Linked DNA regions of Homo sapiens: regions 1, 2, 4 and 5 are each linked to region 3. Evidence: fine-mapped expression QTL. A gene starts in region 3. Each other region holds a variant in brackets. All regions are shown on one strand. Distances are between the middles of the regions.

Region 1 (6,159 bases), 180 kb after region 3:
GGTGGCTGAGCGACACTCCTGCACCCAGCTGGCTCCTGGGGCATTGATTATGAAAGAAACACATCATCGCGGGATGCTGAGCTCTTTACAGTTTACTCTCCCATTGGCCAGGACTGGAGCAGGCAGCTTCAGTCTCCCTCCCTGCTCTGCCCCTACCTGCCCAGCTCTGCAGACTTTGCCTTGTTTGGGTGGGCGGTGGGGGTACCCGTCCCTTTCCCTGTGTGTGGGAGGGAGCCCCCAAAAGCTTTCCCCAAGTTCTGCTGCCAAAGACAATGGGGTCTCGGGTGGACAGGTGGCATGGGGAGAGGGAAATTGAGGCCAGAGAGCACAAGAGGCTGACCCAAAGTTACCAGTGACGAGAGCAAAGAAGGGTGAGGGTGGGCTTGGGACGCACATCCTGGCTGTAACTGGAGAGGTAAAGCTTTCATCTATTTCACGCACTAAGGTTCTCTCTAACCTCTATACTCCCCTTTTTTTAGAGACAGTTTGCCAGGTTGGCCAGCCTCGTCTGAGCAGGCTGGAAAAACTCTCTTGGTGCCAGGACAAGGACAGCACTGAGGGAATTTCCTCCAGTGTCCACTTGGTCACCCAACTGAGACCTGGCTGGGCTTCCAGGAATTCCTCGATGCTCCATCAGCCTGGGATGGTTGGTCTCTGAGCATGGCTGATCGGTGGCAGCTGGAGGGGTGGGGGACCAGCAGCACCACCCTCCTGCCCCCATACTGCATGGTGGAGAACCTCATAGACACCCAGCCCTTTGGAGAGCAAGACTGGTTCTCATTTGACTCAATGAGCAGCGAGTTCCCCACAATGCTGGCAGAGTGGGTCTATCACCAACACCAAACCCTCCAGGGGCTTCCCGCTGAAGGAGAGTAGGTGTTGCCTGCAAGCACCAGCACTTACGGCCCTCGCTGCCCCTGGGGCCTCGGTCTGTTCCAACCACTCCTTACACAGCAGACCCTGGCCCCACTGCGTCTCTGCTGCTCAGCAAACCCAGCTCCTTCCGGGGCCGGGCTTGCCCTGCTCCTCTCTGTCTGTAACGCTCTTTCCTGTTCCTCACTCTGCTGGCTCTTCCCGTCAATGAAGGTGCAGCTTCAAGAGCCCTTCAGTGACTCTCCACTACCCACCCCTGCACTTTCTGGATCACTGGGTTCATTTATTATCTGTCACCGTTCTAGAAAGGACAACAAAGACCTTATCTATCTTGGTCATTGTGATATTGCTGTATCACACAGTAGGCGCTAAAGAAATATTTGTTGAATATATTATTTGTTAAATAAAAGAATCTCAGAAGGGGAGTGGGGATGGGGCCGGGGGGACGGTTATCATGGGCTTTGGCTTCTGAGGTCAGCGTTTTAAATCTTGTGTGTGTGTATGTGTGTGTGTATATATGTGTGTACATGTGTGTATATGTGTGTATGTGTATATATGTGTGTACACGTGTGTATGTGTATATGTATATGCATGTATATGTGTGTATGTGTGTATGCGTGTGTATGTGTGTATGTATGTGTATATGTATATATGTATGTGTATGTATGTGCATGTAGATGTACATGTGTGTATACATGTGTATGGGTGTGTGTATACATGTGTATGTAAGTGTGTGTGTGTATATGTGTGTGTATATGTGTGTTTGTGTGTGTGCATGCATGTGTGTGTGCATTGGGTACAGTTGGGAACGGGCTGCGTGAGTAGTGGGAGGGAGGAGGGCAAAGCAGGAGCCCTTCTGAGGCCAGCTGGGACAGCGCTGTAGGAACTCTGCGCTGCTGTGGCATCAGGGTTGGTGCTCCCTGTCTCTCCTCGAGAGAGGGAAGCCTGGCTGAGGGGGGCTTGGTGCTGGGAGCTGATTCTCAGCCTGTTTCTCCGTGGCTGCTGTCCTCTGATTTGTCTGGAACATAGGATGGGAGAGGGCGGCAGGCCGAGCATGGTGACAGATCAGAGACACTTGGCTGAGTGGGGAGAAGGACGTTTGTGGGTTCTTTGATTTTGTTCTGCCGCAGACCCAGGGGCTCTGGGAGAGTCAGTGCTAGGAGTTCCAGCACTGACTACAGTGGAGGGAGGATGCCGAAGCCTCGGGGTGCATCTCCCACACCTTCAGCATCTTCTCCATCCCCAGGTTCCCCGCTGCAGCCCTGCAGTCAGCCTGCCATGTGTCCTGCCCTCCTGCCTCCCTCCCTCCCAACCTTTCTCTCACCAGCCTCCTCCATGTCACAAGCTGAGGCTATGATAGCTGAGTGAAGCCATACACGGCCTGCCATCTTAGAGCTGATGGGGAGGCCCTTGCCACTCCAGGCCAGTGCCCAAGACGGACATGTGTGCAGCCTTGGCACCTCCTGGGAGCTTGTTAGAAAAGCAGACTCTTGTGCTCCACCTCAGACCTCCTAAGTCAAAATCTGCCTTTGAAAAGACCCCAGACAATTCACATACATTTTCAAGCTGGAGGAGCGCTGCTCTAAGGGTTCCGAGGTAGAAATCATGACAAACTGACAAGTGCTATGAAGGGAAGGCTCACTGGACAAAGAGCACGTGTGGGGACCCTTGATCCCTTCACAGGCTGCCTGCTCCCTTCGCTCCCCCGGGGCCGGCCAGAGAAAGGGGCAGACTGCTCCCTGCTTACTAGCTTTGGAGTTACACGATCTTGTTTCAGAACAGCTTCCTTTGTGTATGCCGTTTCTTTAGCTTGGAATGCTGGCGTTCTCCTGGACCACTGGTCTTCTCCTGGGTCACTCTTACACACCCTTTGAGACTTAGTTCAGAGGGCACCCTCTCTGAGCGGCCTTTCTAGAATCTGCCAGTTGGGCCAAGTGTATAGGGCTTCTGTCTATGATCCCACAGCATCCTGGGCATCCCCTGACTCACTAGCTACCACATCCTATGGAAATCTCTCTGTGTGTGTCTCTTCCCTGAACCATGATCTCCATCCGGATCCCCATCTCCCAGCAGAGTGCCTGCCTGCTGCACAGGGCACAGGGTGGCATATGCATTTGCTGAGCTGAACTTGACTTGAGTCGATCACTTTATGAGCCATATGATTGTAGACAAGTTATATAATCCGACAACCTTAATCCTCTTATCTGGGAAGTGAGATAATAAAAATACC[T/C]ATCTTGCAGGGTTATCATGAGGATTACCTTACAATATGAAAGATACACAGAGAACATTGTAAAAGGCTATACAAATGTAGGTTATTATGTCTAATTTTTAGGAATAATATTTAGGTTTGTGGCTGTGTGAAAAGTGCTGAGCCAAGGTCCTCTCATTTTATTCTCAATATCTTTTGAGGCAGGGACTATTAGGGTCTTCATTTTATAGGTTAAGAAGCTGAGACTCAGAGAGGGCAAATTACTTGGCAAAGACCACACAGCCATAAGTGGTGAAGTTGGAATTTAGACTCGAGATTTTGACCCTACAACATGTTCTGTTGGAGTTAGAGCAGCTCCCAGACTATCCCTGCAGCTGCAGCAGCCCTTCCACTAACCCCTGCCTTTGTCCTGGCCCTAGAGCTCTGCGAAGCGGGCTCTCTGCCTGTCCCAGGGGGCATTCAGACCTGGCAGGTACTCTCCTCCCTTCCCTCCCCGCAGTCTGAATTTCAGAGGGCCCCAGGAAGCATGAGCCTGGCTCGCAGTTGGTGCTTTGGCGATGTCTGCTAAGGGAACGGACGAATGTTGTTTGTAGTCCGCCCAGCTCTTTGCTGCCTTTTGTGGTTTTGCCCGGTTCTCTGGTTCTGGGCCGCGTGTAATCCCAGCTTCCGGTTTCCTCACGTATACAGATGCGCCACCTAATGGCCACAATGGAGAACTGCAGGATGTAGAGACAAGAGGGAGCTGACCTGGTTTTAAGAGTCAGCTTCCCAGTGGTAGCCGAACAATGTTTGGAGAAATTCGTATTGAGCACCTACTATACGCCAGGCCCTTTCTAAACACTAGGGACAAGAAGCTTCTGCCCTAGTGGAGTTTACCTTCTAGTGGGAGAGACAGACAATAAATGAATACACAAATACATACATAATACAAGGTTAGGTGTTGATAAGTACTAGAAGGAAAGTAACACTGGGCAGGGAATAGATACATCCTAAATTGGCCTCCGGGATTCCCTCCTGGCTTTTCTCCTTCCTCTCTGGTTGTTACTTTTTGTTTTCTTCCCACCCCTTAAATGCTGGTCTTCCCTAGTTAGCTCTTGCTGGCCATATCTCATTTGACACACTATCTAATGGAAAACCTTCACTTTTCTGTGAACTCAACTCACATCTTTAAGCTGACGAATTCCAAAGAAGCATCTCAGGCCAGACCTCTCTCTTGAGCTCCAGAGTCATGACCCAACTGTCCACGGGCCTTCGAAGCTCAGCAGGTGTGACACCACACCCACCGCCTCTCCCAGACACCCATCCATCCCCATATTCTGTATTTTGGAGAATGGCCCCACTGTTTGGGGACCAAGTCAGAAATCTGGGGGTCTTTCTGGATTCCACTCTCAGTCACCCTGTCTTGCCAACTAGCCTGGTTAACCCTCTGAAGTATCGCTCAGATTTGTCTCTTTCCATTCCCACAGGCTTCCTGGATCAGCCATCATCCTTTTGTGCTTGGATTACAATAGTGCTTCTCCCCTCCATCTCCTAGTCCTCTGTGCTTTTCCAGAGTGACTGTTACAGAAGTCTGAATATTCACCTATCCAGTCAACCAGTAATTCACCCACCATGTGCTGAATGTCTAGCATTCCTCTGTTTCAAATCCTCTGAAAGTCCCTCATTGCCATCTAAATAGTCTGAACTTCTTGGCCACTGCTGACTCTTCGGCCTTGCTTTTCATCACTTCTTACCTCAATTCCTCCTTGTGGATAAGAGCCACCTGCATTTGTTGGAGTAAATCGCTTTTCCCCAATTGCCCCTTTCCATTTTTTATTTATTTATCTTTTTTGAGACAGAGTTTCACTCTTGTTGCCCAGGCTGGAGTGCAATGGCATGATCTCGGCTCACTGCAACCTCTGCCTCCTGGGTTCAAGTGATTCTCCTGCCTCAGCCTCCTGAGTAGCTGGGATTACAAGTGCCCACCATCATGCCTGGCTAATTTTTGTATTTTTAGTAGAGATGGAGTTTCACCATGTTGGCTAGGCTGGTCTCGAACTCCTGACCTCAGGTGATCCACCTGCCTTGGTCTCCCAAAATGCTGGGATTACAGGCATGAACCACCGTGCCGGGCCTGCCCCTTTCCTTTTGCTTTGCTAACTTGAAGGTCGGGCAGCTTGGGTTTGAATCCTGGGTGCTATGTTTACTGGCTTGTGGCCATGGGAAAACTGCTTAGCTTCTCTGTGCCTCAGTGTCCTTATTTGTAAAATATGAATTAAAATAACAAAACCAGATTCACTGTATAGTTGCCAGGGTCAAGGAAGATGTAACATGAGAAAATGCTTTGTAAAGGGTCTGATGGATGATGTGGCATGTTATTGGTTCTCTAAGCAGACTGGGCTCATTCCTTTGAAAGGCGATAGACGGGCAGGGGAGCTGGGACTTAGAAGTCCCAGATTGCCCCCTTGGTAAAGCAGAGGTCTATGTCCTTTTCCCTGCTTTGCCCTGCTGGGAGCTGGGTGAAGACCCTGCTGCTCCCATGGGTGATTCCACGCTGCCCTGCCTGGCTTGGCATCCCCTCCCTCTGGGCCCCCCCACATTCTGTGCCAACTGAGGCACACACTGCTTATGGGCTGCAAAGGCACATGTGAGCCCCATGTGGAGCAGAGAGATGAGCCATCTCAGCTGAGCTCAGCCCAGATTGCTGACTCACAGTTTTGGAGTGGTTTATTATGCAGTATCTGCATTCAGAACACAATACTCCAAGATATCGCATCTTAGAAGTTGAGAAAACAGCAGAAGCAAAAAGTTTACTCTCCAATCCCCTGCCTTCCTGGGCGAGAGCTAGCTGTAAAAAATTCTTTGACCCATCTCCCCTGAAACTAGGTCATGAGATCCTCATTCCAGAGGGATCCTGCCCTATACTCAGAGGAAAGAAACGGTGTACAGGAACTCAAAGAGGAATGCAGGCAAGGCCTTGCTAAGTTCTTCTGGTTTGTTACCATGAGGTCATACCCCCTTTTTTGTCCAATCACATTTCTGCACAACTGCCCATTCTTTGTTGAACATAAGCCTACAAATACACAATTTTCCCATGG
Region 2 (6,159 bases), 110 kb before region 3:
TGCATGAAGTGATGACCACATGCCCCTTAAAGCCAACTACAGAGAAAGTGGGTGGATGGGTCTGGCCACCACAAGCTCCTCGGAACACAGGCTGGAGGTCTGGGATGAGGGGCCCAAGGCTGTCCACCTGGGCGGCAGGGAGGCCCGAGAGGACAAGAACCAGCCCCAGAGAACGGAGAGATGAAAGAGGTGATGAGGACAAGCTGGCGTCTTCCCGGAAACCTGGATGGGAGAGGAGACAGTGCCAGCCGCTCTCCCCGTGGGCCTCCCCCCTGCTTGCTCTCTGACCTCGCTGAGCACATCAAAGCGGGAACCCCTTCCCCCAGGCTGGCTCCCTGAATGGCCCAGGTCATCACTGGCTCCTTGAAGCTGCTGATGGACAGATGGTAATCGCTCCCAGCCTGCTGAAAGAGGACGCGGCTCCAGGTCGGAGCTGGGCCTCGGTGGGCTCCCTGCATGGGAGGCTGTCTTGGCTGCCCACTTCTCGGTCCCCCTCACTGCTCCCTGGGACAGTCTGGTTAGCTTGCCTTGGGGAAAGAGGGTGCTCGGGTAGCTCTGATGCTGGGGTTCAGAGGCCCACAGGCGCAGCAGGTGAGATGTGCAGAGACCTAAGGGGTCTGAGGACCCCTCAGTCCATGTCAGACAGGCCGTGGGAGCGGCAGAGGATCCTGCAGGAATGGCAGGAGTGAGGCCTGCCCTGGGGAAGTTCGTCACCCAAGAACAGCAGAGGATGAAGGGAACAGCCGGGGCTGGCACTCACACACTTACGTGTCGAAGACACATCATTGTAGAAGAGGCATCCAAGCTGTCACTCTCTTACTTTCTCTCCACTATTTAGTAAATAATGCAGGGAAATAATCCATTTACCTGATTGTGCTTAGTGAAAATTGTACATAACTATCAATTAGTGCATCTGATCAGCAGAGATAGCAACTTATTACTACCTTAAACCAAAATTAAATCAGCAAAGAGCTAAGAATGCTTGACGTTTAGCTACACTGAACTCACGTAGTGGGTAAATGCCTGTTCCTATTAGGCTTTTGGGTAGTTGAGGACAGCTTGACTATATTTTCTACATTTTTATAATGAACATGTAACACTCTTCTCACTGAGTGTGTAGGGATCAAATTCTATTTCAACTTCACTCAAAGAGCCCAAAACATGACCTCCTACTACTCCACCCTACACGAGAGAACAGAAAACCCAGCGTCAGGCTAGCTAAAAAAGTAGGGGGCCGAGATTTACAACGCTGGAGTAGCCACGGTGAGGGTTATCAGGGGGTTAGAAAAAGATGGTAAGGCTCTTGTGCGGGATACTTCATACTTGATTAAATCATGTTCCCATTTTTTGTAGCAGCTTAGCCTGGAGAGGGATAAAAGCTGGAGTACTGCTGCCATCCGGTGGCAACATTAGAAAATGCATTTTACTGCGTTCATATTAATACAGTAATAAAACTACATTTTACCCTATGAAATTGTCTATATTTGACCCAGTGTAACCATCAAAAATCACAACTTACAAAAAAATTACACTTGGGAAAGAACAGACTTCAACAAATGGTGCTAGGACGGCTGGCTACCCAGTCAAAATTGGACACCATCGTTATACCACACACAGAAATGATTTAAGATTATAGACCTAAATCTAGAAAACTCTTAGACAAAAAAAACAGAAGGAAATCTCCAAGACTTTGTATTAGGTGATGGTTTCTTAGATATGACACCAAAAGCACAAGCGACAAAAGGAAAAATTGGACATCAAAATCGACAACTTTCCTATTACAAATAATATAATCAAGAAAGTGAAAAGACAACACAAAGGGAAAAAATATTTGCAGACAATACCTCTAATAAGACAGTGGTATCCAGGCCGGGCGCAGTGGCTCATGCCTGTAATCTCAGCACTTTGGGAGGCCAAAGCAGGCGGATCACTTGAAGTCAGGAGTTTGAGACCAGCCTGCATGGCGAAACCCCATCTCTACTAAAAATACAAAAATTGGCTGAACATGGTGGTGCATGCCTGTAAACCCAGCTACTGGGGAGGCTGAGGCAGGAGAATCACTTGAACCCAGGAGGCGGTGGTTGCAGTGAGCCGAGATCACGCCACTGCACTCTAGCCCAGGCAACAAGAGCGAAACTCTGTCTCAAACAAACAAAAAAGTGGAATCCAGGATATATAAAGAACTCCTACAAATTAATAATAAAAGCAAATAACTGAATTTAAAAATGGGCAAAAGATTTGCATAGATATTTCTTTAGGATGTATAGTCACCAAACACATGAAAAGATGCTCAGTATCATTAGCCACTAGTGAAATGCAAATCAAAACCACGGTGAGAAACCACTTCACATCCACTAGGATGGCTGTAATCAGAAAGATAGGTAATAACAAGTGCTGGTGAGAAACTGGACCCCTCATACATTGTTGCTGGGAATGTAAAATGGTGCAACCCCTTTGGAAAACAGTCTGGCAGCTCTAGAAACAGAGTTGCCATACGACCCAGCAATTCCACTCCTAGTTAGGTACCCAAGAAGTTAAAATACACATCCACATAAAAGCTTATACATGAATGTTCAAAGCAGCGTGATTCACAATTGTCAAAAAGTGGAAACAGCCACCAACTGATGAATCGATAAACAAAATTTGGTATATCAATACAATGAAATATTATTCAGCAATATAAAGAAGTAAAATACTGGCCAGGTGCTGTGGCTCACACCTGTAATCCCAGCACTTTGGGAGGCCGAGGTGGGTGGATCACTTGAGGCCTGGAATTCAAGAGCAGCCTGGTCAACGTGGCAAAACCCTGTCTATACTAAAAATACAAAAATTACCCGGGCATAGTGGCACACGCCTGTAATCCCAGCTACTTTTGAAGCTGAGACACGAGAATCGCTTGAACCCAGGAGGCGGAGGTTGCAATGAACCAAGATTACGCCACTGCACTCCAGCCTGGGCCACAGAGCGAGACTCTGTCTCAAAACAAAAACAACAAAAAAAGAAGTGAAAGAGTGACATATGTTACATTGTGAAGGAACCTTGGACACATGACACTAACTCAAAGAAGCCAGTGGCAAAGGAGCACATACTCTATCATTCTGTTTGTATGAAACATCTAAAATAGGCAAATCTATAGGGAAATGAGAATCCTTCTATTTCCAGAAAATAGATTAGCAGTTGTCTACGGCTGGGAGTGGGAATGGGGAGTGACAGCTTAGTGGAAGCCAC[C/T]GTCACATGTTGCATAGAGGACCGTGTCAGCCGCCTCACTGGTCTCCACACTCCTGTTTCCTGACAAAGCATTCTGCAGTCCTCTGCTGAAGGTCTGATGGAGTGAGCCAGGAGTAGGCAAACAGCCCAATAGGTGTGGAGGGTGGTTAGTCCTTGAGAAATCATATGAACAATGCAGGGGTTCGGGATGCAGATACATCTAGGAGGTAGGGGCATGTGTGTGGACAGATTTGACGGTGGTGAGAAGGCAGGGGCCAGCTGAGCCTTCGGGGTGTATCTGACTAAGTACAAGTCACCATGGCCGTGCCCTCACAGCATGTGAAAATACCTGGGAAAGGCCGGGCACAGTGGCTCACGTCTGTAATCCCAGCACTTTGGAAGGCCGAGGCGGGCGGATCACCTGAGGTCAGGAATTTGAGACCAGCCTGGCCAACATGGTGAAACCCTGTCTCTACTAAAAATACAAAAAATTAGCCAGGTGTGGTGGCAGGCACGTGTAATCCCAGCTACTCGGGAGGCTGAAGCAGGAGAATCACTTGAACCCAGGGAGCGCAGGTTGCAGTGAGCTGAGATCACGCCATCACACTCCAGCCTGGGGACAACAGCAAAACTTCGTCTCAAAAAAAAAAAAAAAGAAAAAAAAAGAAAATACCTGGGAAAGAAGAACTTCACCCATCTGTATAATCACCCCTGATTAAAATCCCTTTCCCACTGCAAGGATGGCAGCAGATGACAGTGTTCCACAGCAGGTGCCAGGAGGGAAGTGAACAGAAATATCTCAAGGCTTCTTGCCTGAAAGGATCCTAAGGCCACAACCAACAGGGGCATCTATGCAGACAGCCACCTAGGCTGGTCACTCGCTGGGGGACAGCAAGATGAAGGGATCCCTAAGAGAGGACATCAAGAGACGCCTAAGGGAGTGGGGGATGGAGAGGAAAACTCAGAGTTCTATAATAATTTGCCTTGCTTTCGTCCTTGGTTCCTGGGAGAGAGAACCTAAATCCTTGGAATTTCCCAAGTGATGTTAACATTTTTTGTTATTCATGATGAGCCCTAATAGTTTACGCTATTAAATGTGAGGACTCACGGTGGGGCTTTAGTTTCAGGATGGGTAGTTTCAGGCTGGCCATGCAAAAAGACCGACCATGTGATTAGAGGGTTGGCACTTTGAACCCAGCAGAACCGAGTTCAACAATGTAGCCAATTGTTCAACCACGACAACATAATGAAACCCCAATAAAAACTCTGGACACCAGGGCTTGGGTGACATTCCTGGCTGGTGATGCACATCCATGTGTTGGGAGGGTGACACGGTGGGCAGAGGACACGGTAGCTTCATGCTGGAGACTCTCCCAGACCTTGCCCATGCATCTCTTCTTTTAGCTGGTCCTGATTCATATCATTTTATTGCTACAGCAAAACCATAATAGTAAGCATAGCTAGTGCTTTGCTGAGTTCTGGGAGTCATTCTAGTGAATGATCAAACCTGAGGGGTTTGTGAACACTCTTGAATTCATAGCTAGTTGGTCAGAAGTACAGGTGGCTGGAAAACCCCAGAGCTTGCAGCTGGTGTCTGAAGTGAGGCAAGTCCTGTGGAATGTGCCATTAACTTGTGACATCTGGCCTAACGCTGGGTAGCTGGTGTTTGAATTACATTGCCCTGAGCCAGCAGATTTTGCTCCGCACTGGGAGAAGCTGTCTGCACCCACATGGCATGCTTTGCACAAGCACAAGCAGGAGGCCATGTTTTTGTATATCCTACCAGGCACTCTGGCTAAAAGCAGTCCAGAGAGCCAAGGAGAGCAGACCTAGAAAACATGGTGGGAGGCTGCTCTATTTGCCTGTCTTGTTTAAAACAGGTACCCCCTCCCACACTGCTCTATCCCCAGGAACCTGGGGATGGTCTCAACACCCCGTTGTGAGTTTGGTTTCTGGTGGGAACTAGCAGGTTGCCTATGATCCTATTTCTAACCCACTATGCCCTTCCACCTCCCAGACCTATCCCATCATAGCTGAAGGGTGGGGACGGTGAAATTGGTGCTCAGGAGATATTAGAATTAAAGAGGGAAGTGCATTTTAAGAGAAGGGTTTTAGATGGAACTGGCAAAGAATTAGTGGCTAATTGGATTTGGGGACTGGTGCGAGGGAGGAGTTAAGGGTGATTCCCAGGTCTCTGGTGATGCCATCTAAACTAAGGCAGGTAAGAGGACAGGAGCAACAGGCCCGGAGAGGGAGCTCCCAAGGGGAGACGATCACAGGCAGATGGATGTGAAGATAAGGAGCTCAAGGGGGAGATCAAGGTCAGAGACAGACTAGCGAGTCGTCAGCACACAGGTAGAGGCTTCCCAAGTTGGCCCAGCTCTCCCTCTGGGAGAGGGGCAGGATGCCAAGATGGAGCTCTGGGGGGCACCATGCTGGGGCCCTTCAAGGAGCCTGGAAGGAGGTCAGACAAGGAGATGCAGGAGGAGTTCATGGAATCAAAGCGAGTGAGGAGCTCAGAGTGGGCAATTCGGTTATCAAATGCAAAGACGTGTGATACGAGGATTGAGAAAGTGCTCTGTGGGCTTATTAGGTTGGGCATGCCTAGCACAGAAAAAAACCAGCTACCCAAAAGCTGCCTCCTGGAGCAGAAGAGCCAGTGCTGCCACCAGAAGGGGCACTGGGAGAGCCGGCCTCCCCCCTCTGCTGAGCACAAGCACCTCCCAGAGCTCACAGCAAACAAAATCCCTACGTGGGCAAGGAGCTGCTGCTTTTCATGGCAAGCCTTTAGTTCTTGATTTTTCATTTTGATTTTTTCTTATTCTTTTTTTAACCAGAGTCATTTGAGCAGAATAGTTCTTGATTTTTTAAATCATGTGCACATAGAACTTTGATAAAAATAGAAATTTAAGAAGCCCATTTTCTTATACTAATTACTGTATATGACTTAAC
Region 3 (5,361 bases):
GCCTTTTTGAAGAGTAGAATTCTGGTTTTATATTTTAATCAAAATTATACCCATATTGATTAATTTTGCCGCTAATGAATACATTTCTCTACTATTTCATTTCAAATGTTTCTATTTTGCTCATTATATTTTAGCTACACAGGTCATTCCTTTTGAGACAGAGTCTTGCTCTGTCACCCAGGTTGAAGTGCAGTGGCGCGACCTTGGCTCACTGCAACCTGCACCTCCTGAGTTCAAGTGATTCTCCTGCCTCAGCCTCCCAGGTAGCTGGGATTACAGGCGCACACCACCACACCCAGCTAATTTTTGTATTTTTAGTACAGACTATGTTTCACCATGTTGGCCAGGCTGGTCTCGAGCTCCTGATCTGAAGTGATCCGCCCACCTCAGCCTCCCAAAGTGCTGGGATTACAGGTGTAAGCCACCATGCCCCACGGTCATTCCTATTTTTTAAAAATGTCAAGCACATTACTGCTCTAGGGCCTTTGACAGCTAATATTTACTGTGCCTGGGCTCTTCATATGGCTGATATGGCTGGTTCCTTCTCATCATTCAAGTCTCAGCTCAAATGTCACCTTTTGAGAGGCTGTCCATGATCATCTTATCTAAAGAGCTTGGCCGAGCATGGTGGCTCATGCCTGTAATCCCAACACTTTGGGAGATGGGCAGGTCACCTGAGGTCAGGAGTTTGAGACCAGCCTGGCCAACATGGCAAAACCCCATCTCTACTAAAAATACAAAAATTGGCCAGGTGTGCTAGTGTACGCCTGTAATCCCAGCTACTTAGAAGGCTGAGGCAGAAGAGTCGCTTGAACCTGGGAGGTGAAGGTTGCAGTGAGCCAAGATTGCACCACTGTACTCCAGCCTGGGTGACAGAGTGAGACTCTGTCTCAAAGAAAGAAAAAAAAGGGCGGGGGGGGGGGGCTCCTATCCCCAGGCTCTTTCACACTGTCCAGTTTTGTCCTATTAACAGTACTTGGCCGGGCACGGTGGCTCACGCCTGTAATCCCAGCACTTTGGGAGGCTGAGGCGGGCAGATCACGAGGTCAGGAAATTGAGACCATCCTGGCTAACACGGTGAAACCCCGTCTCTACTAAAAATACAAAAAATTAGCCAGGCGTGGTGGTAGGCCCCTGTAGTCCCAGCTACTTGGGAGGCTGAGGCAGGAGAATGGCGTGAACCTGGGAGGTGGAGCTTGCAGTGAGCCGAGATCGCACCACTGCACTCCAGCCTGGGCGACAGAGGGAGACTCCGTCTCAAAAAAAAACAAAAAACAAAAAACAAAAAACAGTTCTTAATCATTATCTTGTTTACCTCATGTACCCCATTTGAATATACATTTTATGAAAGAAGAGGCCTCGTTGTCTTGCTTAGAACTAATAGCCGCTGGCACATGGAAAATGGAGACCTGGAAAGGTTAAGAGACTTTTCCAAAGTTGCACAGCTAGTCAGTGTTGGGGCCCGACTTCATGGCTCTCAATTATGGGCTCTTTTTGTTAAAACATAGCTACTTTGGCAGGGTGCGGTGGCTCACGCCTGTAATGCCAGCTCTTTGGGAGGCCCAGGCGGGCGGATCACGAGGTCAGGAGTTCGAGACCAGCCTGGCCAACATGGTGAAACCCTGACTCTACTAAAAATACAAAAAATTAGCCGGGAGTGGTAGCAGCCGCCTGTAATACCAGCTACTCAGGAAGTTGAGGCAGGAGAATCGCTTGAACCTGGAGGCAGAGGTTGCAGTGAGCCGAGATCGCGCCATTGCACTCCAGCCTGGGGGACAGATCCTAAGTCTCTCCTAATAATGCTTTCTGCATCACACACACACACACACACACACACAAAGTAGTCCTTTTTTTTTTTTTTTTTTTTTGAGATGGAGTCTCGCTCTGTCACCCAGGCTGGAGTGCAGTGGCGCGATCTCAGCTAACTGCAAGCTCCGCCTCCCGGGTTCACGCCATTCTCCTGCCTCAGCCTCCCAAGTAGCTGGGACTACAGGCGCCCGCCACCACGCCTGGCTAATTTTTTTGTATCTTTAGTAGAGACGGAGTTTCACCACGTTAGCCAGGATGGTCTCGATCTCCTGACCTCGTGATCCGCCCACCTCGGCCTCCCAAAGTGCTGGGATTACAGGCATGAGCCACCGCGCCTGGCCTAAAGTAGTCTTTTATCCAACTCCTAATCTATATTTCTGGTAGAAGTAATCCAAAAATCAAACTAACACATGGTACACTTTGTTATTGACCAAAAACTGACTGTAAATTGCATCTTGTTGCTAACGTTGAGAATGGCAAAAACTGTCCCACACCCATGAGATCTGTCTGAAAACCTAAACTCAAATCACTGGCAAAATAAATGTGTGGCTGACTGAAGCGATGTAAGTACCAACTCTTTTTTTTTTTCTTTGAGACGTAGTCTCGCTCTGTCGCCAGGGTGGAGTGCAGTGGTGCGATCTCGGCTCACTACAATACTCCGCCCGCGTTCAAGCGATTTTCCTGCCTCAGCCTCCCGAGTAGCTGGGACTACAGGCGCGGGCCACCACGCCCGGGTAATTTTTGTATTTTTAGTAGAGACGGGGTTTCACCATGTTGGCCAGGATGGTCTCGGTATCTTAACCTCGTGATCCGTCCACCTCGACCTCTCGAAGTGCTGGAATTACAGGCGTGAGCCACCGCGCCTGTCCGTAAGTACCAACTCTTCACAAAATTTAGATCTGTTAAATAACACCAGTGAAAAACGGGCTAACCAGAAACAATGGTCACCAAAGAAACCCTCAACAGCAGAAGTTACAAGTAATAATTTTATATGGCAAAAAAAAAAAAAAAAAAAAAAAAAAAGAGAAACGAAACCCTGGGAGACGAATCATACTGCAAATCATATCCCTGGGTAGCAGGGCAGAAATACAGGTAAACAAAATAGAGAGGAGGGGGATGCCTCTAGCCCGGAAATAAGTGGGTGGTGGAGATGGTTCTTCTGGCCATATTCGTTTACCTTTTTTGTCAGCAGAAAAGTACTGAGTCTACAAAGTAAAAAACTGACCACGATGAAAATTTCTGCAAAGTAATTAAAATGGGAGAAAAATGGAAATGGCTTAAATACTCGGTATAAAAAATCGACCAAGGAATCAAATGGGCTCACGGATTTGCGTCAGAAACGTTGCTTCCCCGATAATTGGTCAACGTCGGTGTAACTATGATTAAAATGTCAGTATTCAAACAAGGGCTCCAACACTACCGTGGCCCAAGGGCGTCTTCGGCTCCCACCCCGGGGCGTGGGCCTGGGGGTCCCTCTTCACTGCGCAGCCACCTCTAGCCCGCCGCTTTCGGGACTCTCAGCCTTCTTTTCCCTTCCCTGAGGGCCGGCCGGCACCACAACGGGGCCAAAGGCAGTAACTCGGTTGAAAGGCGCGCCCTGGGACAGGTCAGCGGGCTCCGCCATGCGCGGCACGCATCCCGCAGGAGCGGGTGCCAGAGCAGGGTAGGCCGGGAGTTAGCAGCCCAGCCAGGCCGCTGGACTCGGGCTAGGGGCGGGGCCAGCGCAGGGGGCGCAGGCGCACACCGCCTCCGCGGCAGCATGGCGGACGCAGCTCCTCAACTAGGCAAGAGGAAGCGCGAATTGGACGTGGAGGAGGCCCACGCCGCCAGCACAGAGGAAAAGGAGGCAGGAGTTGGAAATGGTACCTGTGCTCCTGTCCGCTTACCGTTCTCCGGCTTCAGACTGCAGAAGGTGCTGAGGGAGTCTGCGCGGGACAAAATCATTTTCCTACACGGGAAGGTACCAGGAGGCAACCCTGAGGTGGGATGCGGGAAGCAGTGAACCAATCATCGCCTCGGAGGCAGATTTTTTTTTTTCGGATCTCGGCTGGAAAATACCAATCATTATCACTCCGGGGAGGCGGGAGTGCGCCACTAGAATGCATAGAGGGGCGGTGAAAGGCGGCAAGATTGCCTTTGAAATTAAGGCAATGAACACATCTAGCTCTAATTTTTCTAATGTCTCCACTAGAAATATCTACTGGGAGAGTGCATTGCAGATTAAAGATCACATGTTACATTCCCCAAGCCATTCATCATCCATTTATGTATACAGGGACTAGGAACCCAGTCAATGTTAGATGTCTCGCTCATCCCTGTCCGTGGAAACGACATGAGACTGTAGGAGATGTGATCTCTGCCTTACGCGACTTCAGCCGTAACAGGAGAACAATATATTATAATTGTTAATTCAGTTCTACGCACGCACTTTCATGCATGCCAGACACTAAACTAGGTACTGGGGATGTGGAGACGAAAGTTACCATCCCTGATCTTCAGGACTACGGAATATTTCTGGCGAGACAGATACACACAGCTTGCTCCAATACCAACGTGCTCAGCAATCTGGCAGGGGCTGAGGAGAGATGGAGACCATTCCAGGAACTAGTGAGGAGGCCTAGCCAGAGCAGATATGGGGGTTCCCCAGAAACTAGTGAGGAGGCCTAGCCAGGGCAGATAAGGGGGTTCCCTAGAACTACTAGCAGGAACTCTCACCTTTGGGAGGATCAGGGAACCTTGGCCTAGGCTTCCATGCCTCTGTGTGTATCTGGTTTTTAAATTTTTATTTATTTATTTATTTATTTTTGAGACGGAGTCTCTCCTCTCTGTCACCCAGGCTAGAGTGCAGTGATGTGATCTCGGCTCACTGCAACCTCTGCCTCCCGAGTTCAAGCTATTCTACCTGCCTCAGCCTGCCCAATAGCTGGGATTACAGGCCCCCGCCACCATGCCCAGCTAATTTTTGTATTTTTAGTAGAGATGGGGGTTTCACCATGTTGGCCAGGCTGGTCTCGAACTCCTGACCTCAGGTGATCCGCCTGCCTCTGCCTCCCAAAGTGCTGGGATTACAGGCGTGAGCCACCGCACCCGCCTTTTTTTTTTTTTTTTTTTTTTTTGAGATGGAGTTTCACTCTTCTTGTCCAGGCTGGAGTGCAATGGCACTATCTTGGCTCACTGCAACCTCCACTTTCTGGATTCAAGTGATTCTCCTGCCTCAGCCTCCCAAGTAGCTGGGATTACAGGCATCTGCCACCATGCCCAGCTAATTTTCGTATTTTTAGTAGAGACAGGGTTTCACCATGTTGGCCAGGCTGGTCTTGAACTCCTGACCTCAGGTGATCCACCCACCTCTGCCTCCCAAAGTGCTGGGATTATAGGCATGAGCGACTGCGCTGGGCCTTGTTTTTTGTTGTTTTTTGTTTGTTTGTTTGTTTGTTTTTGTTTCTTGTTTTCTGTTTTTTTGTATGCGATTCTGTCTGGTTCTCTCAGCCCAGCTGTCTTCAGTGTGCAGCACCTGTTGAAGGTGTTAGTCATGAGAGCCTTCGAGCTAGG
Region 4 (6,159 bases), 30 kb after region 3:
TACTGTGTGCCAGACATTGTTTTAAGAACTTCACAGGTAATTGACTTGTTTAATCCTCCCAGCCTTATGACACAGGAGCTTTTACTATCCTCATTTGGCAGATGAAGAAGTAGGGGCACCAAGAGGTTAAACAGCTGAACCGTGCTCCCGGGTGGGGCCAAGGTCCCATTCAGAATAAGGAGCAGGCAGAGCCAGGACTTGAACTCAGTCTGGCTGCAGAGTCTGTGCCTGGAACCACTGCGCTCTGCTGCACTGCCCATCATTAAGGGGACTACTGGGCTTTAAACCATATATATATATATATATATATATATATATATTTTTTTTTTTTTTTTTTTTTTTTTTTTTTTTTTGAGATAGAGTTTCACTCTTGTTGCCCAGGCAGGAGTGCAATGGTGCAATCTGGGCTCACTGCAACCTCTGCCTCCCAGGTTCAAGTGGTTCTCCCGCCTCAGCCTCCTGAGTAGCTGGGATTACAGGCATGCGCCACCACGCCCGGTTAATTTTGTATCTTTAGTAGAGATGGGGTTTCTCCACGTTGGTCAGGCTGGTCTCGAACTCCTGACCTCAGGTGATCCGCCTGCCTCGGCCTCCCAAAGTGCTGGGATTACAGGCGTCAGCCACTGCGCCCGGCCTTTAAGCCATATTTTCAGCTTTGGGTCCAGAAAGCCACATACCTAGAAATTTGGTATGTGAGAAGAGTTAGAGACCTCTCATTCCTGTGCCTGGAAGATGGAGCAGGAAGGGCTGGGGTTTGCCTGATGAGGGGCCCAGTGACCCACAGGTAAGAACCTTGTGTTTTCCAGATTCTGAGTGTGGCTCAGCTCGTGAATGCAGTGGCACAAGGCACTCTGTGGGAGTGGATCTTGGGTGCATGATCCTCTTGGATTTTGGCTTCCCTCAGGGAATCAAAGCCAGGGTGGGAGTTCTCTCCTCACCGTGGTGCCTGTGGCATAGAGAGTGGGCATTGCTTCCCTGTCACGGGCTGTGCTGTATCATTGCAGATGTAAAGACGACCGTGGTTTACCCTGCCACAGAGAAACACCTGCAGAAGTACCTGCGCCAGGACCTCCGCCTGATCCGAGAGACGGGAGATGACTACAGGAATATTACTTTACCCCACCTGGAGTCCCAGAGCCTCAGCATCCAGGTGACTGGCTGCATGTCTCAGACGCAGAGCACTGCTCCCGTGGCTGGTGCCTCCTCTTACGAGTGTCTATTGGGGTCATATTAGGGGCCAGGCGCTGTGCTGGGCGAGGGGATGGGGGTACAGTAGAGAGCATGGCGGACAGAATCCCCACCTCGTGCAGCTTACATCCCATGCACAGTCACACGGTGTGTGACCATACACAGATATCTCAGGATCTATGTGCTCTGTGAGATAATGAGGGCTGCAGAGAGAAATAGACAGGATAAGTGGGACCAGAAGGCCTGGGGCGGGCAATTGCCATTTTATATCGCATGGCGAGAGAAGGCTTTGGGGGTGGGGGAACTGATGCTGGTCTTGGTCCCACCTGATGTGCTTGGGCATGCCATGGAGGCTCTCTGGGGACCTCAAAGCAATCCAGTCCTTTGGAAGAATGTGTGTCTGCTCTGCAGTAGCCTTGATCCAGCCTCGGGATGACTGTGCCATTGCTTTGGGTCCATGAATGGGTAAAAGGCTGATGTTGAGTGAGTCCCACCCTGTCCAGACTCTTATTCCTGGTTTCACCTGCGGCAAACCGGCCTGCAGGATCTCAGTCTCAGAGGAAAAACTCTTCCCTCACCGACTCCCCCTTGCATTCGTCCAAAAGAAGGCAGGACCCCATTGGCCCCGGGGATTTGGTGCAGGGACTCCATTCACAAGCTGGCAGTCGTCTGGCCAGGCCAGATGCAAGGCCATTTAGCTCCAAGATCCTGACTCCTCCCTGGGCCTAGGCCCAGCGCCAACTGGAGCCTCTGCCTGGAACTGGCCCCATGTGAGTACTCAGAGTTAAATATGACTGATGCTTATTGATGAGTCAGTTTCTTGCCCACTCACTGACTCTGACACTGTGCCTTGTCTTTATCACTCACCCTTGTTCTCTTCGAGCATTTCTCACTTTTCTCCCCAAGATTCAGGTCACTGTGGTGGAGGGTGTTGTGATGTGAGGAACTCACAGCCACTCCTCCCTGGCCCAGAAGAAGGGAGGGTACGCTGTGTGTGTGGGCACTGCAAGGTGAATTGTACTTGACAGGAGTAAGGAAAGGGAGGCTGACAGGGCCTGCAGGAATGAAGTTTCCTTGGGAGACCTGTGTGCCGCCAGCCCCCTTCCCCAGCCTGGTTCAGCCCTGGTCTCCCTGGGCAGCAGTTTGCGTGGGGTGCATCTGGCTCAAGCTGACTTGTTTGTTGTTGTTGTTGTTGTTTGTTTGTTTGTTTTTAAAGTCCCAGCACTTGTTCTGTTTTCCAAGTGAAAAGGAACTATATCTCCACCTTCTTAGAGTTTCTGCTGTTCAGGGTCCTAGGGAATCTCCTGGAACAGTTGTTCTGTTGTGCTGGTTGTGCAGACCTGAGATTCAAGTAAGGAAGCCCTGATGTGGTTGGTGTGAGTAGCTGGGATTACAGGTGCTTGCCACCATGCCTGGCTACTTTTTTGTATTTTTAGTAGAGATGGGGTTTTGCCATGTTGCTCAGGCTGGCCTCGAACTCCTGAGCTCAGGCAGTCCGCCTGTCTTGGCCTCCCAAAGTGCTAGGATTACAGGTGTGAGCCACTGTGCCTGGCCATGTATATTCCTTATTATATACCATTATGCAGTTCCATTCGGAGAAGAGCACAATGAAAACTCCACTACTCTTCCAACTCCTGACTGACGGGAGCCGTTCATGTATTCCTTCTTGGCTATTTCTAGTTTACAAGCACTCAGCTTAACTGGCAACACTCATTATGTTTACTGAGTACCTACTATGGACCTGGTCCTATGCCAGGCTTTGGAGAGTCACCAAGATGATGAAACCTAGACAGGATCTTCACAGTGTAACAGGGAAGATAGACTTGTAAACGGGCAATTGTGACAATGGGATAAGCACTCTGATGCCTAGACGAACTACCGTGGTGATGCAGAGGGACAGTGACCAGCGCAGACAGTTGGGACTTCACAGGGAGAGGATCCTCCCCTTGGGTCTTACAGGACAAATAGAAGTTTACCAGGTGCACAAGGGGAGGGAGGAGCAAGTCCAGAGGCACACAGAGCTGGAATCATCCGATGCTTTGGGGGAGCTGCAAGGAGTTTGGTGTGACTGGGGCTTGGGCTGCTGGAGGGTCAGAGGAGACAGCACTGAGATGGTAGGCAGGGGCCAGGCGGAGGCACGTGGACTTTGTCCAGGGGGCCAGGAGTTCCTGAACCTTGCTTACCATCAGGATTGCCTGGGGGTTTTCATAAATACCGAGCACAGAGCACTATTCCATATCTGCTGAATCTCACGCTTCAGGGAGTGGAGCTGGGAATTCTCTCTCTCTCTCTCTCTCTCTCTCTGATATTTCTGACAACCATCAGATGTGAGAACAGTTGCCATAGGCAGTGAGGGTGCCCTAAACGGTTTTAAGCATGTGGATGATATGGCCCGATTTGCAGAATTAATTGGTGGAGTGGGGGTGA[G/A]CATAGAACAGGAAGACTGGGAAAAACCAGTATGGGTCTGAACCAAGGTAGGGACAGTGGGGAAGGATTCTGGAGCAATTTAAGAGGTAGGTCTTCACAGGGCTGGATGGGGCTTAGCAACTGATTGACGTGCAGAGGGGAGGGAAGAGGTTGGGTGATGAGTGGATAGAAGGATAATTCATGACCCAGTATAGGGGACAGAAACAGAAGAGTGGGTTTGCATGGAAGACAGTGAGTTCAGTTTGGAATTCATTGAGCACTTACTATGTATAGTCCAAGAACTGCTCTAAGCATTTATGCGCATCACACCTCATTTATTTATTTATTTATTATTTATTTATTTTTGAGATGGAGTTTCACTCTTGTTGCCCAAGCTGGAGTGCAATGGTGTGATCTCGGCTCACTGCAACCTTCTCCTGCCAGGTTCAAGTGATTCTCCTGTCTCACCCTCCCAAGTAGCTGGGATTACAGGCGCCCGCCACTATGCTGGGCTAATTTTTGTATTTTTAGTAGAGACGGAGTTTCACCATGTTGGCCAGGCTGGTCTCAAACTCCTGACCTCAAGTGACCTGCCCACCTTGGCCTCCCAAAGTGCTGGGATTACAGGTGTGAGCCACCGCACCCAGCCTCACACCTCATTTATTCTTCACAGCAGCCCTTTTGGAGACAGGTCTCAAAGCCAGGCAGTCTGGTCCCAGTATCTGTGCCCTAAGCCAGAGATACTATTTGGCTCCTTAGATGTGAGGTACTTATAACTTCCCAGTAAAAACTGCAGTGGGATGTCTGGATCTGGAGCCTTTGAGATCATCTAGTTACAAATGTCTGTTTGTGAGTCATCCAGCTAGACTTCAACCTCAGCCTGGTGTTTGGATTCTCAGTCTGTCATCTAAGAGCAGCGTGACATTGTCCTTAATTTCGGAGCCCTGGTTTCCTTGTCTGAAAAATGTAACTAATGGCTCCTCCCTCCTGGGTGTTGTGGAAATTGAGAGAGGTGCCATATATCATGTGCCTGCTATTGTTTCCAGCACAGAATGATGCCAGGATGGCAGCCACCATCCCCTACTCTAGGTAACTGTTCAGAGGGACAGGCACAGCAATGGGCAGAGCTAAGACACCTGGGAGACGTGGCCAGGCCACACATGGCTGGAGGGGAAGTGCAAGGCAGCAGGCAGAAGCAGAGAGCAGGAGGTGATGAGGAAGGAGCAAGATGTCTCACGGGAGGTCAAGGCGGGAGAGAGGGTACCGAGGGAGCTGCCAATGTCACCTACTGCAAAGAAGTCCAGCCAGGTGAGTTGCAGAAAGCTGATGGCATCACCCTCTGCCCAGTTTATCAGCAGGGCTGGCCAAGTTCTTGGGCATGGTTTCAGATGGTGGCACTCCCCATTACATAGCTCTCTGTGTTTGTGTGAATTTTGTTCTTTCATTCTCCTTTTTTTTTATCTGGGCCCCTGGCCTGGAGGCTTCCCGTGGATGCAGCTCCCTGCCACTGTCCCAGAGGCCTCTCCCAGGAGACAGGATGTACCTTGGCCCAGGGTGCAGGCTCAGGAGCCAGATACTCATGGTTGGAATTGGCTGACCCAGCGTGAACTTCCTTGCACTTGCATTCTTCTTAACTGTAAAATGGGGACAATGTCCAGGCGCGGTGGCTTATGCCTGTAATCCCAGCACTTTGGGCCAAGGTGGGCAGTTCACTTGAGGTCAGGAGTTTGAGACCAGCCTGGCCAACATGACGCAACCCATCTCTACTAAAAATACAAAAATTAGCTGGGTGTGGTGGCACACGCCTGTAATCCCAGCTTCTTGGGAGGCTGAGGCAGGAGAATCACTTGAACCTGGGAGGTGGAGGTTGCAGTGAGCTGAGATCACGCCATTGCATTCCAGCCAAGTGTGAAACTCCGTCTCAGAAAAAACAAAAAACAAAAACCAACAAAAAAACCTGTCTCTACTAAAAATATAAAAATTAGTCGGGTGTGGTGGTGGGCACCTATAATCCCAGCTACTGAGGCAAGAGAATCGCTTGAACCTGGGAGGCGGAGGTTGCAGTGAGCCGAAATCACGCCACTGCACTCTAGTCTGGGCGAAAGAGCAAGACTCCATCTCAAAAAAAAAAAAAAAAAAATGGCGACAATGATAGCAGCCACCTCTCAGGGTTGCTGTGACGCTGAGAGCAGTGCCAGGCAGAGTGCAGCTGCTCTCACAGTCATCACTCCTTCCTGCAGTCACTCGTCCTCCAGCCCCGCTCTTATTTCCTCTCTCACCACCTCCTTTGCTCTCACCGCCTTTCCCTCTTTTCCTGTCCCCAGTCAGTTTTGTAGCCTCTGGCATACCATCCCACCACCTTTGCCACTCGTGGGGGTCTCCCTTATACTGGCTGTGCTAGGTGCTTTCATGTGCGTGTTCTCTGAAAACCTTCACCACCCTTATGTAGATATCATCAGCCCCATTTTACAAAGGAGGCATCAGTCGCTCACCCAGTGACAGCTGGGAGATGAAACCAGGTCTCCTTGGCTCAGAACCTGTTCACTCTCACTCTTATACTAGTCA
Region 5 (6,159 bases), 64 kb before region 3:
ACCCATAGGAGAAAATTATTTGGACATATTTGAAAAGGTCTTTATCATACACTTACATTCATTTGATGGTTTGACTGAGTATAGAATTTTTAGTATCTCTCATTCATACTCTGCTAACATCTAAGTATTCCTGCCAAAATAGCCACTCTGTTCTGATTCCCAATCCTTTGTATTGTATGACCTCTTTCCCTGTTTTTTGTTTTGTTTTGTTTCATTTTTGTTGTTGTTGTTGTTCATTAGAAGCTTATAAGGATCATTATTTTATTCTCAGTAACCTGAAATTTCACAGTGATGTATCTTGTCATATGAATCTAGACACCGGGCAGCTCTTTAAAGCTGGCAACTAGTACCTTCACTTTGGAGAAGTTGACTTATATTACTTTTTTGATACTTTCCATTACAATGTTTTTTCTATTCCACATTTTTTTAAAACTCTTGTTATTCAGATGTTGGACTTCTTGTATTAAGTCTCTAATTTTTTATGTGTTGCTTTATTTTTTTCCCCCCCATTTCGTTTTCTTAAATTTAGCTTTCTCGGGGGTTCTCTGTTTTATCTTGTGGATTTAAAAATTTCTGTTGCGTTATTTTTGATTTATGAAGTCTTTTTGTTTGTTCATTTTTTCATAGCACTCTGTTTATGTTTCACAGATGCTTTTTTTTTTTTTTTTTTTTAGACAGAGTCTCACTGTCTCCCAGGCTGGAGTGCAGTGACACTATCTCGGCTCATTGCAAGCTCTGCCTCCCGGGTTCACACCATTCTCCTGCCTCAGCCTCCCGAGTAGCTGGGACTACAGGCGCCCGCCACCATGCCCGGCTAATTTTTTGTATTTTTAGTAGAGACGGGATTTCACTGTGTTAGCCAGGATGGCCTTAATCTCCTGACCTCATGATCCACCTGCCTCAGCCTCCTAAAGTGCAGGGATTACAGACGTGAGCCACCGCGCCTGGCCTTTTTTTTTTTTTTTTTTTTTTTGAGATGGAGTCTCGCTCTGTTGCCCAGGCTGGAGTGCAATGGTGCAATCTCAGCTCACTGCAACCTCTGCCTCCCGGGTTCAAGCAATTCTCCTGCCTCAGCCTCCTGAGTAGCTGGGATTACAAACGTGCTCTACCACACCTGGCTAATTTTTATTTTATTTATTTATTTATTTTTTAAATAAAGACAGGTTTTCACCATGTTGACCAGGCTGATCTCAAACTCCTGACCTCAAGTGATCCACCTGCCTTGGCCTCCCAAAGTGCTGGGATGACAGGCGTGAGCCACCCCACCTGGCCAATTTTAAAAAAATCTAGGCCAGGCTCGGTGGCTCACGCCTGTCATCCCAGCACTTTGGGAGGCTGAGGTGGGCAGATCGTGAGGTCAGGAGATCGAGACCATCCTGGGTACCTGGGTAACATAGTGAAACCCTGTCTCTACTAAAAAAAAAAAAAAAAAAAAAAAAAAATTAGCGGGGCGTGGTGGCGCGTGCCTGTAATCCCAGCTACTCGGGAGGCTGAGGCAGGAGAATCACTTGAACCTGGGAGGCGGAGGTTGCAGTGAGCTGAGATTGTGTCACTGCACTCCAGCCTGGCAACAAAGCTAGACTCCGTCTCCAAAAAAAAAAAAAAAAAGAAAAGAAAAAATATATGTGAGGATATCATTGTTTTCTTTTAATTTTTTTTTCTCCTTCCCATACTATCTCTTATTTCCTTCAGATTTCTCTCTACCTGCTAGTTTGTTTGGTATAACTGTTATGTTGGGGGCTTTCCTCAGATGTGAGGTGACCCTTGTTTGTCTGCCCATTTTTAACAGAAAACACCAAAAAGCCAATGGAAGAGGCCGGGTGCGGTGGCTCACGCCTGTAATCCCAGCACTTTGGGAGGCCAAGGCAGGCGGATCACTTGAGGTCAGGAGTTTGAGACCAGCCTGGCCAACCTGGTGAAACCCCGTCTCTACTAAAAATACAAAAATTGGCTGGGTGTGGTGGCACGTGCCTGTAATCCCAGCTACTCGGGAGGCTGAAGCAAGAGAATCACTTGAACCCAGGAGGCAGAGGTTGCAGTGAGCCAAGATTACGAGATTCCATCTCAAAAAAAAAAGCCAGTTGGAGAATCTGTGTGTACATAAGGGGCTTGGTCCCAGACTCTATGTAGAGTTAAGGAATTCCCACCTGTCAGAATCTGCAGGTTTTTCATCTCATACTGGCCATTTTCCTGAAAGAGGAATCGTCCTCATTTCCTAACTGGATGGGGGATAGGGGTGCAGGTACAGAGTTGATTCCTAGAGTCTGAAAAGCTTCCTCTGGGGAAAGAGAGTTGGGGGAAATCTTGTATTTTATATACAGACTTTTACTTAATCCCCACCCTCAGCTGTGTGCAGTGTTCTCAGATATAGTCCTCTGGTCAACCTCTGCAGAAGGGAAACCTCTAGCCTGCTGAAAGTTGTAACTGTTAAAGGCTTGTAACTGATTCTCCTATTTTAGCCCCACCAGCCCCTCTACCTTTAGATGTACATGAACATTCCCAAAATTCTACCAAGGGAATCGGCCTTTGCATTACAATTGGTAAAATGTTGTTGCCCTTTGACCTCTGTTGTCTGCTGTCATCTTTACCTAGCCTACTTTTTAGGTATATATACCCGCTAAAAAAAAAAAGTAACTATTATTTGGTGGTTTACAAAGAACCAGTAATAAAACACAATTGTTAAATGTTTTATTTTTAAGTGGAAGTCTTTTTTTTTTTTTTTTTCGAGACAAGGTCTTGTTCTGTCACCCAGGCTGGAGTGCAGTGGCACAAACACAGCTCACTGCAACCTCAGCCTCCTGGGCTCACGTGATCCTCCCGTGAACTTAGCCTCCCAGGTAGCTGGGACTACAGACGTGCCTAATTTTCTTTTTCGTTCTTTCTTT[G/T]TTTGGCAGAGATGGGGTCTCACTAAGTTGCCTAGGCTTGTCTCAAACTCCTGGGCTCAAGCTCAGCCTCCTAAAGTGCTGAGATTACAGGCATGAACCACTGCACTTAGCCAAATTGGAAGTCTTAATTAGGAAGAATTATAGTTCAAATCTGTATGTTATATAAAAAAATACAGTACAACAGTATAAAATGAAAAGTAAAAAGTCCTTATTCTCTGCTATCCCCATTTAACCACTATTTATACATCTTGTGAATCCTAGAAATTTTCTATGTGTGTGTATATTTGTTTATGTGGATTTGTGTATGCTTCACTATCTTGATTGCTCTGAACTGAAACTCATTTTTCATCATTTGCTTCTAACATCTATTATTAATGTCTTTTCTAGTAGACTGATCTTTCAAGATCAGGGACTCCATTTTGTTCATGGATACATGACTCCCGTAGTGTCTGGTACATACAGGTTTTCCTTTCCTGCCTCAGCCTCCCTAGTAGCTGGGACTACAGGTGTGCGCCACCAGACCCAGCTAATTTTTGTATTTTTAGTAGACACAGAGTTTCACCATGTTGGCCAGGCTGGTCTTGAACTCCTGACCTCAAGTAATCAGCCCACCTTGGCCCCCCAAAGTGCTGGGATTACAGGCGTGAGCCACTGCTCCTGGCCTCGGTTTTTCATATTTGTTGAATGACTGAATGCAGAAGCTCGGGTTAGGGAAAGCAGTTTTAGAGGCTGTGTCCCCAAAACCAGGTTTCCCAAGGCTTGAAAGTGCTATTCCTTTCTTGAGTTATGCCAAAATGCTGATCCTCTCCATTTTATTATTTAGACAAAAAGGTTGGGGAGAAGCCATTTTCAGGGGAGGGGAACATGCCATCAGCAAAAATTAATGTGAAGGAACATATTTCAAGCAGGGATAGTCTCCAGAATGAAAGAGAGGGGAACAAAAACAAAAATTAGCACCCATGCTGTCTCACATATGGGCCTCAGAACAGAGAAGTCTGTCTCTGCTTATCATGGTAAGAAAGGAATGTTTTTCACTTTTTGTCATGTCCTTTGATTAGTTAATGTCTTTATTTAGGTATGTAGGGCCCCTGTGTTTTCAGAATTCTATTGGCCACTTTTTTTTTCTTTTTTTTTTTTGCCTGAGGTTAATGTTTACAAAATTCAGAATTAAATTTTGTATTGCCTTTCCCCTAGTGTTTTACATTTCTCAATAATAGGAACTTAATTTGTCCTGGGGTTCTTTTCTCTTTTTCTAGAGTACAAATCAAACGTCTTCTTTTGAAATTTAATACTGGTTTAAAATATAATTTAGTTGGCAGAAGTCAGCTGAGCTATAGTCTATTTGGATCTTTTCCTAATATTAGTGGAATTTCTTAGGTTGAGAGGACTAGGAAGGGAAAACTGATTTTAAGATTGGTTTTGGGATTCCTGAAATAGGTTTATGACTTGTTTTTCAGCAAGCACTGACACAATATTCTGGTTGTTTTCTTTAAACTGCTTTGGAAAGGTGTCAAAAACTGCTGTTCATCTTCTTTGCAACTATAAAAGTTAGCTAAAAACTGTAACCTGAGTCAGACAGTCTTTCTGTGTGCCTCATATCTATTGGATATTCCAATCCTCTCATTTGTTTTGCTTTTATAGGAAGCTGCTTCCAAGCTTAAAAACTAAGAAGCCTCGAGAACTTGTGCTAGTGATTGGAACAGGCATTAGTGCTGCAGTTGCGCCCCAAGTTCCAGCCCTCAAATCCTGGAAGGGGTTAATTCAGGCCTTACTGGATGCTGCCATTGATTTTGATCTTTTAGAAGATGAGGAGAGCAAAAAGTTTCAGAAATGTCTCCATGAAGACAAGAACCTGGTCCATGTTGCCCATGACCTTATCCAGAAACTCTCTCCTGTGAGTACCCTAGTATGTGCCACAGTATTTGGAATTTCCTAAAATTTAACTATCACAACTAGCATGATTTGGCTGTCAAAACTAGCATGCCAAATGTAACAGGGATATTCATTTACAGCTTGTAGGTTTCCATAACATTTGACTCTTCTGCGCAATGTCTGTTTATGGACCCTACTCAGGACAGTTGTCTTAACCCCATTTCACTGTGTGTCTATGAGAGAGAAATGATGTTGAGGACTTTATATGTACAAATTACCACTGTGTTTTGAATTTATTTTTTTCCTGCATCACTACTATAAAAGCTGTGTTCTGTGGCATCCATGCCTTGTATGGAATCCCACAAAGATTGGAGATAATTTTATCATTTTATACATGAAACAAAACCAGTTTTTAGTGTTCTTTTTAGAGGTAATAAGTCAAAATATTTAGAAGGAATTGCACCTTATTTTACCAAACTGAGTTGGATAAAAGGACTCCCTGTCTTGCTTTGTCTGAAAATTTATTTATTTATTTATTTATTTTTTGATGGAATCTTCTTCTTGTCACCCAGGCTGAAGTTCAGTGGTTCGATCTCGCCTCATGGCAGCCTCCGCCTCCTGGGTTCAAGCGATTCTCCTGTCTCAGCCTCCTGAGTAGGTGGGATTACAGGCATGTGCCACCATGCCCAGCTAATTTTTGTATTTTTAGTAGAGACAGGGTTTTGCCATGTTGGTCAAGCTGGTCTCGAACTTCTGACCTCAAGTGATCTGCCCACCTCAGCCTCACAAAGTGCTGGGATTATAGGCATGAGCCACTGCACCCAGCCTGTTTTAAAATCTTAAAAATCAGGCTTCTAGGGCCAGGCGTGGTGGGCACCTGTAATCCCAGCTGCTCAGGAGGCTGAGGCAGGAGAATGGCTTGAACCCGGGAGGTGGAGGTTGCACTGAGTTGCGGTCGCGCCACTGCACTCCAGCCTGGGCGACAGAGGAAGACTCCGTCTCAAAAAAAAAAAAAAAAAAAGGAATTAATGGGGTTTTAAAGAGTTCATGGAATCTCCATACACTTTATAAAAATTAAAAATGGATCAAAGACCTAAATATGATACCTAAAACTGTAAAACTCTTAGAAGAAAATACAGATTTAAAATTTCATGACTGGATCTGGCAGTGGTTTTTTAGACATGACACCAAAAATGCAAAAAACTAAAGTAAAAAAAAATATAGATAAACTGGACTTCTCCAAAGTTAAAAACTGTTAGGCTGAAAGGACACTGTCAAGAAAGTGAGCCGGGGATGGTGGCTCATGCCTATAATCCCAGAACTTTGGGAGGCCAAGGCAGGAGAACTGCTTGAGGGCATGAGTTCAAGACCAGCCTGGACAACATAGTGAGACCCTGTCTCT

Alleles and levels. Positions count from the first base shown, and alleles are read on the strand shown. Sizes are in standard deviations (SD) of each study's normalised expression. Not every link is listed here.
For the expression in transverse colon of the gene that starts at base 3,548 in region 3, C is the high allele of the variant in region 1 and T is the other (small effect, 0.33 SD a copy in GTEx).
As copies of C replace T in region 2, the expression in lymphoblastoid cells of the gene that starts at base 3,548 in region 3 goes up (moderate effect, 0.46 SD a copy in TwinsUK).

Evidence for each region. PIP is the estimated chance that this variant, and not a neighbour inherited with it, causes the effect.
Region 1: its variant is the best candidate, but not a certain one, in a credible set for the expression of DCPS in transverse colon (GTEx, PIP 0.65).
Region 2: its variant is the best candidate, but not a certain one, in a credible set for the expression of DCPS in lymphoblastoid cells (TwinsUK, PIP 0.86).
Region 4: its variant is the best candidate, but not a certain one, in a credible set for the expression of DCPS in fibroblasts (GTEx, PIP 0.78).
Region 5: its variant is the best candidate, but not a certain one, in a credible set for the expression of DCPS in blood mononuclear cells (TOPMed, PIP 0.52).

The regions. Positions count from the first base shown.
Region 1 is chr11:126,477,143-126,483,301 of GRCh38, forward strand. The region is part of intron 4 of KIRREL3 (kirre like nephrin family adhesion molecule 3); the gene reads right to left. Among named protein-coding and RNA genes, the nearest start is that of KIRREL3-AS1, 64 kb to the right of the region's middle. RefSeq lists an enhancer at 1,756-2,257. The variant T/C (reference allele first, on the strand shown) is at 3,104.
Region 2 is chr11:126,192,917-126,199,075 of GRCh38, forward strand. No RefSeq gene overlaps it. Among named protein-coding and RNA genes, the nearest start is that of RPUSD4, 16 kb to the right of the region's middle. The variant C/T (reference allele first, on the strand shown) is at 3,229.
Region 3 is chr11:126,300,513-126,305,873 of GRCh38, forward strand. DCPS (decapping enzyme, scavenger) reads left to right here and starts at 3,548. Exons shown (of 6, transcript NM_014026.6): 1 at 3,548-3,769. The coding sequence starts at 3,569. It overlaps TIRAP-AS1 (TIRAP antisense RNA 1), which reads right to left and starts at 3,810. Exons shown (of 2, transcript NR_187388.1): 1 at 3,676-3,810. RefSeq lists a silencer at 3,506-3,635 and an enhancer at 5,294-5,361.
Region 4 is chr11:126,330,401-126,336,559 of GRCh38, forward strand. DCPS (decapping enzyme, scavenger) reads left to right here. Exons shown (of 6, transcript NM_014026.6): 3 at 1,005-1,150. Among named protein-coding and RNA genes, the nearest start is that of GSEC, 22 kb to the right of the region's middle. RefSeq lists enhancers at 2,748-3,249, 4,378-4,879, 6,027-6,159. The variant G/A (reference allele first, on the strand shown) is at 3,616.
Region 5 is chr11:126,236,266-126,242,424 of GRCh38, forward strand. It overlaps FAM118B (family with sequence similarity 118 member B), which reads left to right. Exons shown (of 9, transcript NM_024556.4): 4 at 4,527-4,779. It also overlaps a transcript of SRPRA not described here. Among named protein-coding and RNA genes, the nearest start is that of FAM118B, 28 kb to the left of the region's middle. The variant G/T (reference allele first, on the strand shown) is at 2,886.